3 linked regions of the Homo sapiens genome follow. The protein of the gene in region 1 interacts with the protein of each later gene in a biochemical or structural test. Each region holds a gene or a part of one and is shown in the gene's direction. Other genes may lie near its edges.

What was found.
Region 2: of the proteins of NKAP (region 1) and SRPK2, one has a biochemical effect on the other in vitro, tested with the Homo sapiens proteins (one large-scale study listed by BioGRID).
Region 3: of the proteins of NKAP (region 1) and SRPK1, one has a biochemical effect on the other in vitro, tested with the Homo sapiens proteins (one large-scale study listed by BioGRID and IntAct).

The regions. Positions count from the first base shown.
Region 1 is NC_000023.11:119,933,678-119,937,330, reverse strand, and holds part of NKAP (NF-kappa-B-activating protein), read left to right. Parts: intron 1-648; coding exon 649-719; intron 720-899; coding exon 900-1,034; intron 1,035-2,773; coding exon 2,774-2,837; intron 2,838-3,653. UniProt on the Homo sapiens protein: Acts as a transcriptional repressor. Plays a role as a transcriptional corepressor of the Notch-mediated signaling required for T-cell development. Also involved in the TNF and IL-1 induced NF-kappa-B activation.
Region 2 is NC_000007.14:105,382,292-105,385,944, reverse strand, and holds part of SRPK2 (SRSF protein kinase 2), read left to right. Parts: intron 1-3,653. UniProt on the Homo sapiens protein: Serine/arginine-rich protein-specific kinase which specifically phosphorylates its substrates at serine residues located in regions rich in arginine/serine dipeptides, known as RS domains and is involved in the phosphorylation of SR splicing factors and the regulation of splicing.
Region 3 is NC_000006.12:35,911,083-35,914,735, reverse strand, and holds part of SRPK1 (SRSF protein kinase 1), read left to right. Parts: intron 1-3,653. UniProt on the Homo sapiens protein: Serine/arginine-rich protein-specific kinase which specifically phosphorylates its substrates at serine residues located in regions rich in arginine/serine dipeptides, known as RS domains and is involved in the phosphorylation of SR splicing factors and the regulation of splicing.

The DNA.
Region 1 (3,653 bases):
GCCAAAATAATTTTCTAGATAATATTTAAATTACTCCAAGTATGATCTTCAGAGGAAAAGATTATATGATGTGGAAACTCCTTTTCTAAACTATTGTAGAATTTGAATAATACTCATTTTCAGAATTCTCTGCAACAGAACAACATCTCTTTAGACTGTAGTTTGTTAGGTTTTTGCTCTGAGGAGACAGAACAGTTGCTGCTTTACCATTTGTCTTTTACGTGCTTAAAATAAAATTATAAAGTCTTTCTTCAGCCTTCTTATACCCAGTTTCTTTAATCTTTCCTATGGTTCCTGTTTCTCTACTTTTTCCCTGTGGTTTCTTGTGAAAATATAAATCCTCCATGCTGCTTTGTTTAAATAGTACTATGTAAACTCTAAAGTGTTATGCAAATGATAAGTTATTTTATTATTACAAAGATGGTAGACCCTTGAACTGCACGTTTATGAAAGTAGTTCAGTGCTTGCTTTGTTGTTGTTTTGGTTTTTTTGATTCCCAAGTTCTGCCTTAGGATCTCCAATGCTTGCTTTTAATGGTTCTTGGACAATCGATGCTGTTACTGAAAAATTTGGAGTTCATATCTTTACACTCCATGGTCCATATCTCATCACTTTCCTAATTCTTATAACCATTTTATTTAAATTCAGTTCTGATGAACATACACCAGTGGAGGATGAAGAGCCAAAGAAAAGCACTACTTCAGCTTCTACTTCAGAAGGTATTTTTAAAAAAAGGGTATTTTTAAAATACAAGCTATTTTATTGAGAGATTTAAAAAAATCAGTTTGTAAATAGTTGAACATTAGACTTTGCTTTTACTCAAATTGCCCATCGTCTGTTTCTTTTGATGTTCAGAAATAGTTTTTTAGAATATAATTTTTTAATTTGTACTTTCTTAGAAGAAAAAAAGAAGAAGTCTAGCCGTTCAAAAGAAAGGTCCAAGAAAAGGAGAAAGAAAAAATCATCGAAAAGAAAACATAAGAAGTATTCTGAAGATAGCGACAGTGACTCTGATTCTGAAACAGACTCCAGTGGTAAGAACGCCAACAGCATTCTGCAAGCCTTGCTTCAAAACTAGTTTTACTTCTTAAAACTTATTTTAGAAGAAGGTTCCTGAAAACAATAATAATACTGAAGAGTTTTTGAACACTTGCTAACCTTGTGCCAGGTACCCCAATAAGTGCTTTATATTTATTATTGCCATTTAATCCATACAATAACTGTAGGGTACATCTTATAGATGAGGAAATGGAGACAGAGCAGGTTATAAGTACTATCCCTAAGGTCACACAGTTTGGATTCAAACCTAAGCAATCTGACTCCGGATTGGGATTGGTTGTGCAAAGTGTACAAGGCACATGGCACCAGACCAAGTCAGGGGGTTGGGCTGTACCAAAGTAAGCCTTACAGGGCTGCATCGGCCCAGTGGAAGGGCTCTTTTGTTTAATTCTCATGCCCAATGAGCACCTCTACAGTTTTCAAAAAGGTATGCCATAAAGTGCCTACTTCATGCTGGCTGCCTATTTGTGGAAGGCACCCTATCTGGGGTAGTGCATCACAAAGAGTCTCCTTTTTGTACTCTCTCCTGGCTGATGATTGACCAGAAGGTGCCTCCTCTGAGGTTAACACATTACACAAAGATTCACCTTCCTCTGATATCGCCGAAGTTTCCTGGCCCTCCCTGTCACTTCTCTTCCTCAGTGCTCGAAGACAGAACTTTCAAATATTTCTGTATGCAACACTTAAAAAGAGGCATTTTTATACTTAACTACAACACTATCTCATACAATAAAATTAGTAATAATACCCTATACACCAAATACCTACTTAAAATCCTTCAATAGCACTCCATAGCCTTCAGGGTAAAGTTCAGACCCTGACTCATTTCTCTCTAATCACATATACCCTGTTACACTCTCTTGCAACATCCTCTGTAATCTGAAAACTACTTTCTGTCTCCTCAGTATTCCATGTTCTTTCTCTTGTTACTTGGTAGAGAGGCCCTCTGCCTACAATGCCAGTCTCTCCCTCCATCCAGCTTGGTTTACTCATTGCACCAATGGGCATGCATTACTTTTGTAATCAAAGAACTACTTTAAGAGTCACCTTTCCTGATCAACCATTCCTCAGCCACCCTCCTCAAATCAGTCTGATTTTGAGACTCCTCTGTGTGTCCAGGTTCCCCAAGCTTCCCTCTATCATTCCAGATTGTATTGATCTCTTTACCTATCTGTCTCCTCCATTAGACTGAGCTCCAGGAAAGGATTCTCTCTCCCCTCTCCAACACACACATAGTTTTCTTTCCCTTTTTATCACAAAAATATTTAAATATTCAGAAAAGCGAAGAGAATAGTATAATTAATACCATATACTTAATCACCTAGATTTGGCAGTTGTTGGTATTTTTACATATTTGCTTCAAATATGGGTTTTTCACTGAGATAGTCAAAGTTAATTACAAATATCATCACACTTCCACCCTAAATATTTCTGTATGCATCCCGTAAAAAGAGGCATTTTCCTAATTAGCCACCACACTATCTCACACAATAAAATTAATAATAATACCCTATATCATCAAAACCTAGTGACTTTAATTTCTATGTTCATAGTACCTCCCTACAGTTCGTGACAAATAGCAATAAATGTTTCAATGAGGTAATTTCTTTGTAACAATAAATGGGACAGCAATAGGATAGTTACCTACTCAAAAGTACTACGGTTTTAGAGTTAAAAAATTTTTTTCTTAATTGTAATGTGCTTTAATTTGCAGATGAAGATAACAAAAGGAGAGCAAAGAAAGCCAAGAAAAAGGAAAAGAAGAAGAAACACAGATCGTCAGTTTTTTAAGTTTTATTATGGAAAATTTCTTTTCTTTTTTTTTTTTTTTTTTTTTTTTTGAGACAGAGTCTCACTCTGTCAGGCAACAGAGTGCAGTGGTTCGATGTCAGCTAACTACAACCTCCGCCTCCCAGGTTCAAGCGATTCTCATGTCCCAACCTCCCGAGTAGCTGGGATTATAGGCACCCACCACCATGCCTGGCTAATTTTTGTGTTTTTAGTAGAGATGGGGCTTCACCATGTTGGCCAGGCTGGTTTCGAACTCCTGACCTCAAGTGATCCTCCCACCTTGGCCTCCCAAAGTGCTGGGATTACAGGAGTGAGCCACTGCACCCGGCCAGAAAATTTCAAATGCATATAAAATTACATAAAATAGTATAATGATCCTTCCTGCACCTGTCATGCAGTCTAAATAATTATCAACTCATGGGCAGTATCTGCCATCCATCATTTATTTTGGACCCAATCTCAGATATCATTCCATCCATAAGCAATTCAGTACCTTTCTCTAAAAGATAGGCATTCTTTTTGTTTTGTTTTGTTTTTTTTGAGATGAAGTCTCGCTCTGTCGCCCAGGCTGGAGTGCAGTGGCGCGATCTCGGCTCACTGCAAGCTCCGCCTCCCGGGTTCACAAAGATAGGCATTCTTTAAAACAAAACAAAACAAAAAACTGGCCAGGCACAGTGGCACATATCTGTAATCTCAGCACTTTGGGAGGCCAGGCAGGAGGATCGCTTGAGCCCAGGAGTTCAATACCAGCCTGGGCAACATAGCGAGATCCTGTCTCTATATTTAAAAAAAAAACAAAAACC
Region 2 (3,653 bases), on another chromosome or scaffold:
TTCAGATAGGGCTAAGGGATAGGAAGAAAATGAAGATGGGACATGTTAAGTAATAATAATAGATGACATTTGAACACTGTGCCAGTCACTCTGTCGATTGTTTTACATATACCTTGTGACAACCCTAAGAGGTAGGCACCGTTATTACGGACATTTTACAGGTGAAACAGGGACACAGGAAAAGTAAGTAACATGCCCAGCTGTTGAATCAAGGCAGCCCGGGACCAGAGTCCACTCTCTGAGAAATGGCATTTGGGCAGGATCGAGAATGAGGAGGAGATCCAGTGTGGCAGAGGCCCTGGGGAGGAATGGGCTGGAAGTATTCGAGAAACCCAAAAGTAAGAGTGGCCTGAGTGGCCCAGAGAGGTTGATGGGAGGCAGGAGTCAGAGCGTGTCTACCCTCGTAGGCCATTGGAGGCTTACATGTGGAAGGGACAGGTTCTGATTCCTGTTTAAAAAGAGGGCTGCTGTCCGGGCGCGGTGGCTCACGCCTGTAATCCCAGCACTTTGGGAGGCCGAGGCGGGCGGATCACGAGGTCAGGAGATCAAGACCATCCTGGCTAACACCCCGTCTCTACTAAAAATACAAAAACAAAATTAGCCCGGCATGGTGGCGGGCGCCTGTAGTCTCAGCTACTCGGGAGGCTGAGGCGAGAGAATGGCGTGAACCTGGAAGGCGGAGCTTGCAGTGAGCCGGGATTGTGCCACTGCACTCCAGCTTGGGCGACAGAGCGAGACTCCATCTCAAAAAAAAAAAAAAAAAAAAAAAAAAATGCCGGGCGCGGTGGCTCACGCCTGTAATCCCAGCACTTTGGGAGGCCGAGGCGGGCGGATCACGAGGTCAGGAGATCGAGACCATCCTGGCTAACACGGTGAAACCCCGTCCCTACTAAAAATATAAAAAATTAGCTGGGCGTGTGGGCGCCTGTAGTCCCAGCTACTCGGGAGGCTGAGGCAGGAGAATGGCGTGAACCCGGGAGGCGGAGCTTGCAGTGAGCCGAGATTGCGCCACTGCACTCCAGCCTGGGCGACAGAGCCAGACTCCGTCTCAAAAAAAAAAAAAGGTTGCTATGTGGAGAATAGATTGTGGGGATGGGGGTAGTAGTGGAAACAGAAGTGGCCTGCAGTAGTGCATGGGAAACCGGGTGACGTTGAGTGTGTGAGGAGTGGCACCTGAGAAGTGGTAAAAGAATCTCCAGGAGACTAGTATTTTCAGGGTACCCCGAATTTTACAGACAGCTCTGACAGGTTAAGCCCACAATAGCTTCGTTTGGATCAGAATTCAGGTCTCTTGAAGCACGGTTTTTGCTTTTTGATTAATTTTCCAGAGGAGGAAAAGGAGTAATAGGTATAATTTTAAACTATTAATATGATGACTGGCAAACTTGAATTATGTGACTGTGGGTCTGGCTTGGTATAATATGATTTACTTTTGTCATTATCTACTTTTGTATATACAAGCAGGCTTTTAATTAATTTTAGTTCATTTCAAATCTGTGAGCTTTTATGAATTGAGCCAGTTCCTAGAGGCTACTTTTATGGTACACTGGAAATTGTAGTTGTCAGGAATAAGATTAAGATTATTTAGTGGGTCAAAATTTTAATCCTGTTAGATTGTCCTGTGAGTTTAGTTTGCTTATTATTAATTGTGCTGCTTTGTGAGTAACAGGCAGAACGGAAGGACTGTAGTGCTGTTTAGTCACAAATCTTAGGAATTAGCTACATCACATAGCTTGGGATAAATTTTTGCCTTATAGTATGTTTATATGGAGGTACAATTTTTAAAATATCTCTTTCATTTATTTTTTTCATAACTTTTATTGGGATATAGTTCACATACCATAAAATTTACCTTTTAAAGTAGGCCATTTACAGATTTTTAGTCTATTCATTAAATTGTGCAGCCGTTATCTAATTCTATAACATTTTCACTTCCCCAGAAAGAAACTCCATATTTATTTCCCAGTTATTCTCCATTCCCCTTCCCCCTGCGTTGGCAACAACTAATTTACATTCTAAGTCTCTATGAATCTGCTTATTCTGAACATTTCATGTAAATGGAATATACAGTATGTGGCTTTGTCTGGTTTCCTTAGAACAATGTTTTCAAGGTTCATCCATGTTATGGCACGTATTAGTACTTAATTCCTTTATATTGTTGAATAGTTGTGTCAATATGCCACATTTTATCCATTTATCCATTGTTCCTTAAAATTTTTCTATTTCTGGCCAGGCGTGGTGGCTCATGCCTGTAATCCCAGCACTTTGGGAGGATGAGGTGGGCGGATCACGAGGTCAATAGTTCGAGACCAGCCTGGCCAATAGGGTGAAACCCCGTCTCTACTAAAAATACAAAAATTGCCTGGCATGGTAGTGTGCTCCTGCAGTTCCAGCTACTCGGGAGGCTGAGGCAGAAGAATTGCTTGAACCTGGGAGACGGAGGTTGTGGTGAGCCGAGATCATGCCGCTGCACTCCAGCCTGGGTGACAGAGCGACACTCCGTCTCAATTAAAAAAAAAAAAAAATTCTGTTTTGTTTTTTGTTCTTGTAAAATTTTTATTAAAACATTTAATTTTGAGGCCGGGTGCGGTGGCTCATGCCTATAATCCCAGCACTTTGGGAGGCTGAGGTGGGCAGATCACGAGGTCAGGAGATCGAGACCATCCTGGCTACGGTGAAACCCCGTCTCTACTAAAAAAAAAAATACAAAAAATTAGCCGGGCATGGTGGCGGGCACCTATAGTCCCAGCTAGTTGGGAGGCTGAGGCGGGAGAATGGCGTGAACCCAGGAGGCGGAGCTTGCAGTGAACCGAGATTGTGCCACTGCACTCCAGCCTGGGCGATAGAGCGAGACTCTGTCTCCAAAAAAAAAAAAAAAAAAAAAAAAAAAATTTTTACTTTTGAAATAATTTCAGACTCACAAGACCTTGCAAAAGTGGTACAGAGTTCTTTGTGTACTCTTTATTCAACTTCCCTGACGTTGATATCTTAACCATAGAACATTGTTGAAACCAATAAATTGACATTGAGACAATGTTATTAATTCAAGAAAGATTTTACTTGGATTTTATCAGTTTTACATGCACTCTCTGTGTAGTTCTAACAAATTGTGTCACTTGTGTAGATTAGAATAATCACCACAGTCAGGATGCCAAACTGTTTCATTACCACAAAGAACAGTCACTCTCTCTTCAAATCTAAGCTTGGGAAACACTGATCTGTTCTCTATCACTTAATGTTGCCACTTTGAGAATGTTATATAAATGGAATTATACAGTATGTCACCTTTTGTGATTCGCCTTTTTTCATGCAGCGTAATGCCCTTGAGATTCATCCATGTTGTTGCCTGTGTGAGCAGAGCATTCCTTTTTTTTTTTTTTTTTTTTTTTTTTGAGATGGAGTTTTGCTCTTGTTGCCCAGGCTGGAGTGCAGTGGCACGATCTTGGCTCACCGTAACCTCCGCTTCCTGGGTTTAAGCGATTCTCCTGACTTAGCCTCCTGAGTAGCTGGGATTACAGGCATGTGCCACCATGCCAGGCTAATTTTGTATTTTAAGTAGAGACGGGGTTTCTCCACTTTGGTCAGGCTGGTCTCGAGCTCCTGACCTCAGGTGATCCACCCGCCTTGGCATCCCAAAGTGCTGGGATTATAGG
Region 3 (3,653 bases), on another chromosome or scaffold:
GTTTTCCATATTCGGGATTCAGCAGTGAAAGAAAAACATTCCTGTCCCGTTGGCTACTATATTATTATAGTGGGAGGAAAGACAGAATAAACAATAGACATAAATAAGTAAATTAAATAGTATATTAGGTGATAGGTGGAGAAAAAAGAGAAAGATAAGTGGGGGTTGAGAAATGGAGATAAGGTTACAGTTTTAAATAGGGTGATGGAGGCCACACTGAAAAGGTGACATTTGAACAAAGACTTGGAAGAGGACTGCTCTAGGCAAAGCAGTGGAAATGGGAGTGTTCTTGTATCTCCTGTGAAGCCACCAGAACTAGGTAATATTACTTGAAAAATCTTGCCAAATCTGGTAATCTATAAAATACCTTGTTGTAATTTTGAATTTTTTGCCCATTTTTAATATTAGATTGTTGATCTTTTTCTTGATCTTAAGAACTCTTTATTAAGAATGTATCCTAGCCAGGTCTGGTGACTCAAGCCTGTAATCCCAGCACTTTGGGAGGCTGAGGCGTGTGGATCACCCAAGGTCGGGAGTTCGAGACCAGCCTGATCAACATGGAGAAACCCCTTCTCTACTAAAAATACAAAAAATTAGCCGGGCGTCATGGTGCATGCCTGTAATCCCAGCTACTTGGGAGGCTGAGGCAGGAGAATTGCTTGAACCTGGGAGGTGGAGGTTGCAGTGAGCCGAGATCGTGCCATTGCACTCCAGCCTGGGCGACAAGAGCAAAACTCCATCTCAAAAAAAAAAAAAAAAAAAAAAAGAGAAAGTATCCTTTGTTGTGCGGCAGACTTTTATTTCTCAGCTTGTTATAGGTCCTTCAGATGTCACTTATAGTGTGCTTTTTACATAAATTGATTTTTAAAACCGTGGCAAATTTGTCTTTTCCTCTGCTTTTTCTTTTTTCTCTCTCTTTTATTTTTTTTTCTTTTTTTGAGATGGAATCTCGCTCTGTCACCCAGACTGGAGTACAGTGGCATGATCTTGGCTCACTGCAACTTCCGCCTCCTGGGTTCAAGCAATTCTCCTGCCTCAGGCTCCCGAGTAGCTGGGATTACAGGTGCGTGCCACCACACCTGGCTAATTTTTATATTTTTAGTAGAGACGGGGTTTCACCATGTTGTCCAGGCTGATCTCAAACTCCTGACTTCAGGTGATCACCTACCCTGGCCTCCCAAAGTGTTGGAATTACAGGCGTGAGCCACTGTGCCTGGCCTCCTTTGCTTTTTACTTTTTTTTGAGACGGGGTCTTGTTCTGTTGCCCAGGTGGGAGTGTAGTGGCGCGATCTCGGCTCACTGCAACCTCCACCTCCCGAGTTGGAGTGATTCAAGTGAATTCAAGTGATTCTCCTACCTCAAGGTCAACTGTTATATCTTTTTTAAAATTTGCATTTTTAATTGTGTGTGATTCCCTTAAATATAAATTTACTTGCAAAATTGAATTTCTAGAACTTCTCTTGTCAGAAAATATTTTGTTCTCTTCTTCCTCTGTAGTTTCATTGGTTAGTAAGTTTTATTTACATTAGTGTTTCTACTACAGTGCATCCCAGGCTTGACAAATTACCATTTTCCTTTAGATTACTTGAAACCAGCAACTTGTTGAAGTGCCAAAGTGAATAAGGCTGCGGGTGCTTAGGAATTCCCTTACTAAAAGTGAAAAAGGCTCGGTACAGTGGCTTATGCCTGTAATCCCAGCACTTTGGGAGGCCAAGGCCTTGAGCCCAGGAACTTGAGATTAGCCTGGGCAACATGGCAAGATCCTGTCTTCTAAAAACACAAAAGTTAGCTGGGTGTGGTGGCACGTGCCTGTAGTCCCAGCTACTCAGGAGACTGAGGTGAGAGGATCTCTTGAGCCCAGGAGGTAGAGGCTACAGTGAGCTGTGATTATGCCACTGCACTCCAGCCTAGGTGACAGAACAAGACCCCTGTCTCCAAAAGAAGGGAAGAAAGATGATCAACTAAAATCAATTTAGACCTTGTGGAATAACTGGCACTTTTTTGTGGGGTTTTTCCCACTTTAGGTAAGCTCTTTTGCTCATGCTCTCCAAATCCTCTCTATCACTGTTACTAGTTTGGGGATATTTTTAAATTGGCTAAAGTATTACAGGCATACTTTGGAGATACTATGGGTTCACGTTCAGTTCCAGACCACCTCAAAGCGAGTCACACAAAGTTTTTGTTTCCCAATGCATATAAAAGTTATGTTTGCACTGTACTGTAGTCTGTTAACTTTGCAGTAGCGTCATGTCTTTTAAAAATGTACAGACCTTAATTTAAAAATACGTTATTGCTAAAAAATGTTAAGGATCATCTGAGCCCTCAGTGAGTCATAATCTTTTTGCTGGTATAAGGTCTTGCCTCAATAATAATTTTTGTTTAAGGGAGATGGGGTCTGGTACTGTTGCCCAGGCTGGAGTGCAGTGGTGCTATCATAGCTCACTGCAGCATCGAACTCCTGGGTGCATGCGTTCCTCCTGCATCAGTCTCCCAAGTAGCTAGGATTACAGGCACATGCCACCATGCCCAGCTCATTTTTTATTTTTTATTTTTTTATTTTTTTTAAGGGATGGAATCTCATTATGTTGCCCTCAAGCTGGCCTTGAATTCTTGGCCTCAAGCAGTCCTCCTGCCTTAGCCTCCTGAGTAGTTGGGATTAGGGGTGTGAACCACTGCACCCAGCTATGGTCTTGCCTCAGTATTGATGGCTGCTGACTCATCTGGCGGCTGCTCAAGGTTGGAGTAGCTGTGGCAATTTCTTAAACAATGAAGTTTGCTGCATTTATTGACCCTCCCTTACCCAAAGATTTTTCTGTAGTATGCGATGATGTTTGATAGTATTTAACCCACAGAGGAACTTATTTCAAAATTGGAGTCAGTCCTTTCAAACTGTGCTACTGTTTTATAAATTAAGATTATGTTATATTCTAAGTCCCTTGTTGTCATTTCAACAATGTTCACAGCATCTTTACCAATAGTAGATTCCATCTCAAGAAACCGCTTTCTGCTGGGTGTGGTGGCATGCACCTGTGGTCCTAGCTACTTCGGAGGCCGAGATGGGAGGATTGCTTGGGCCCAGGAGTTCAAGGCCAGCCTGGGCAACATAGTGAGACCTTAGCTCTTAAAAACAAAAAAGAAAGAAACTTATTTTTTAAAAAAATTAATTAATAAACTAATCAGTTATTTTGAGACAGGGTCTCACCATGTTGCCCATGCTGGTCTTGAACTCCTGGGCTCAAGCCATCCTCCCACCTTGGCCTCCCAAAGTGCTGGGATTACAGGCGTGAGCCACCACGCCCGGCCAAGTAACCACTTTCTCATCATAAGAAGCAGCTCCTCATCTGTTCAAGTTTTATTATGAGATTGGAGCAATTTAGTCACATCTTCAGGATCCATGTCTAATTCTAGTCCTCTTGCTGTTTCTACCACATCTGTAGTTACTTCCTCCACAGAAGTCTTGAACATTTCAGTCATGCATGAGGGTTGGAATCAACTTCTTCCAAACTCCTGTTAATGTTGATATTTTTACCTCTCCCCATGACTGTTCTTAATGGCATATAGAATCGTGAATCCTTTCCAGAAGGTTTTCAATAGATTTTTCCCAGACCCATCAGAGGAATCACTATGGTAGCTATTGCCTTATCAAATGTATT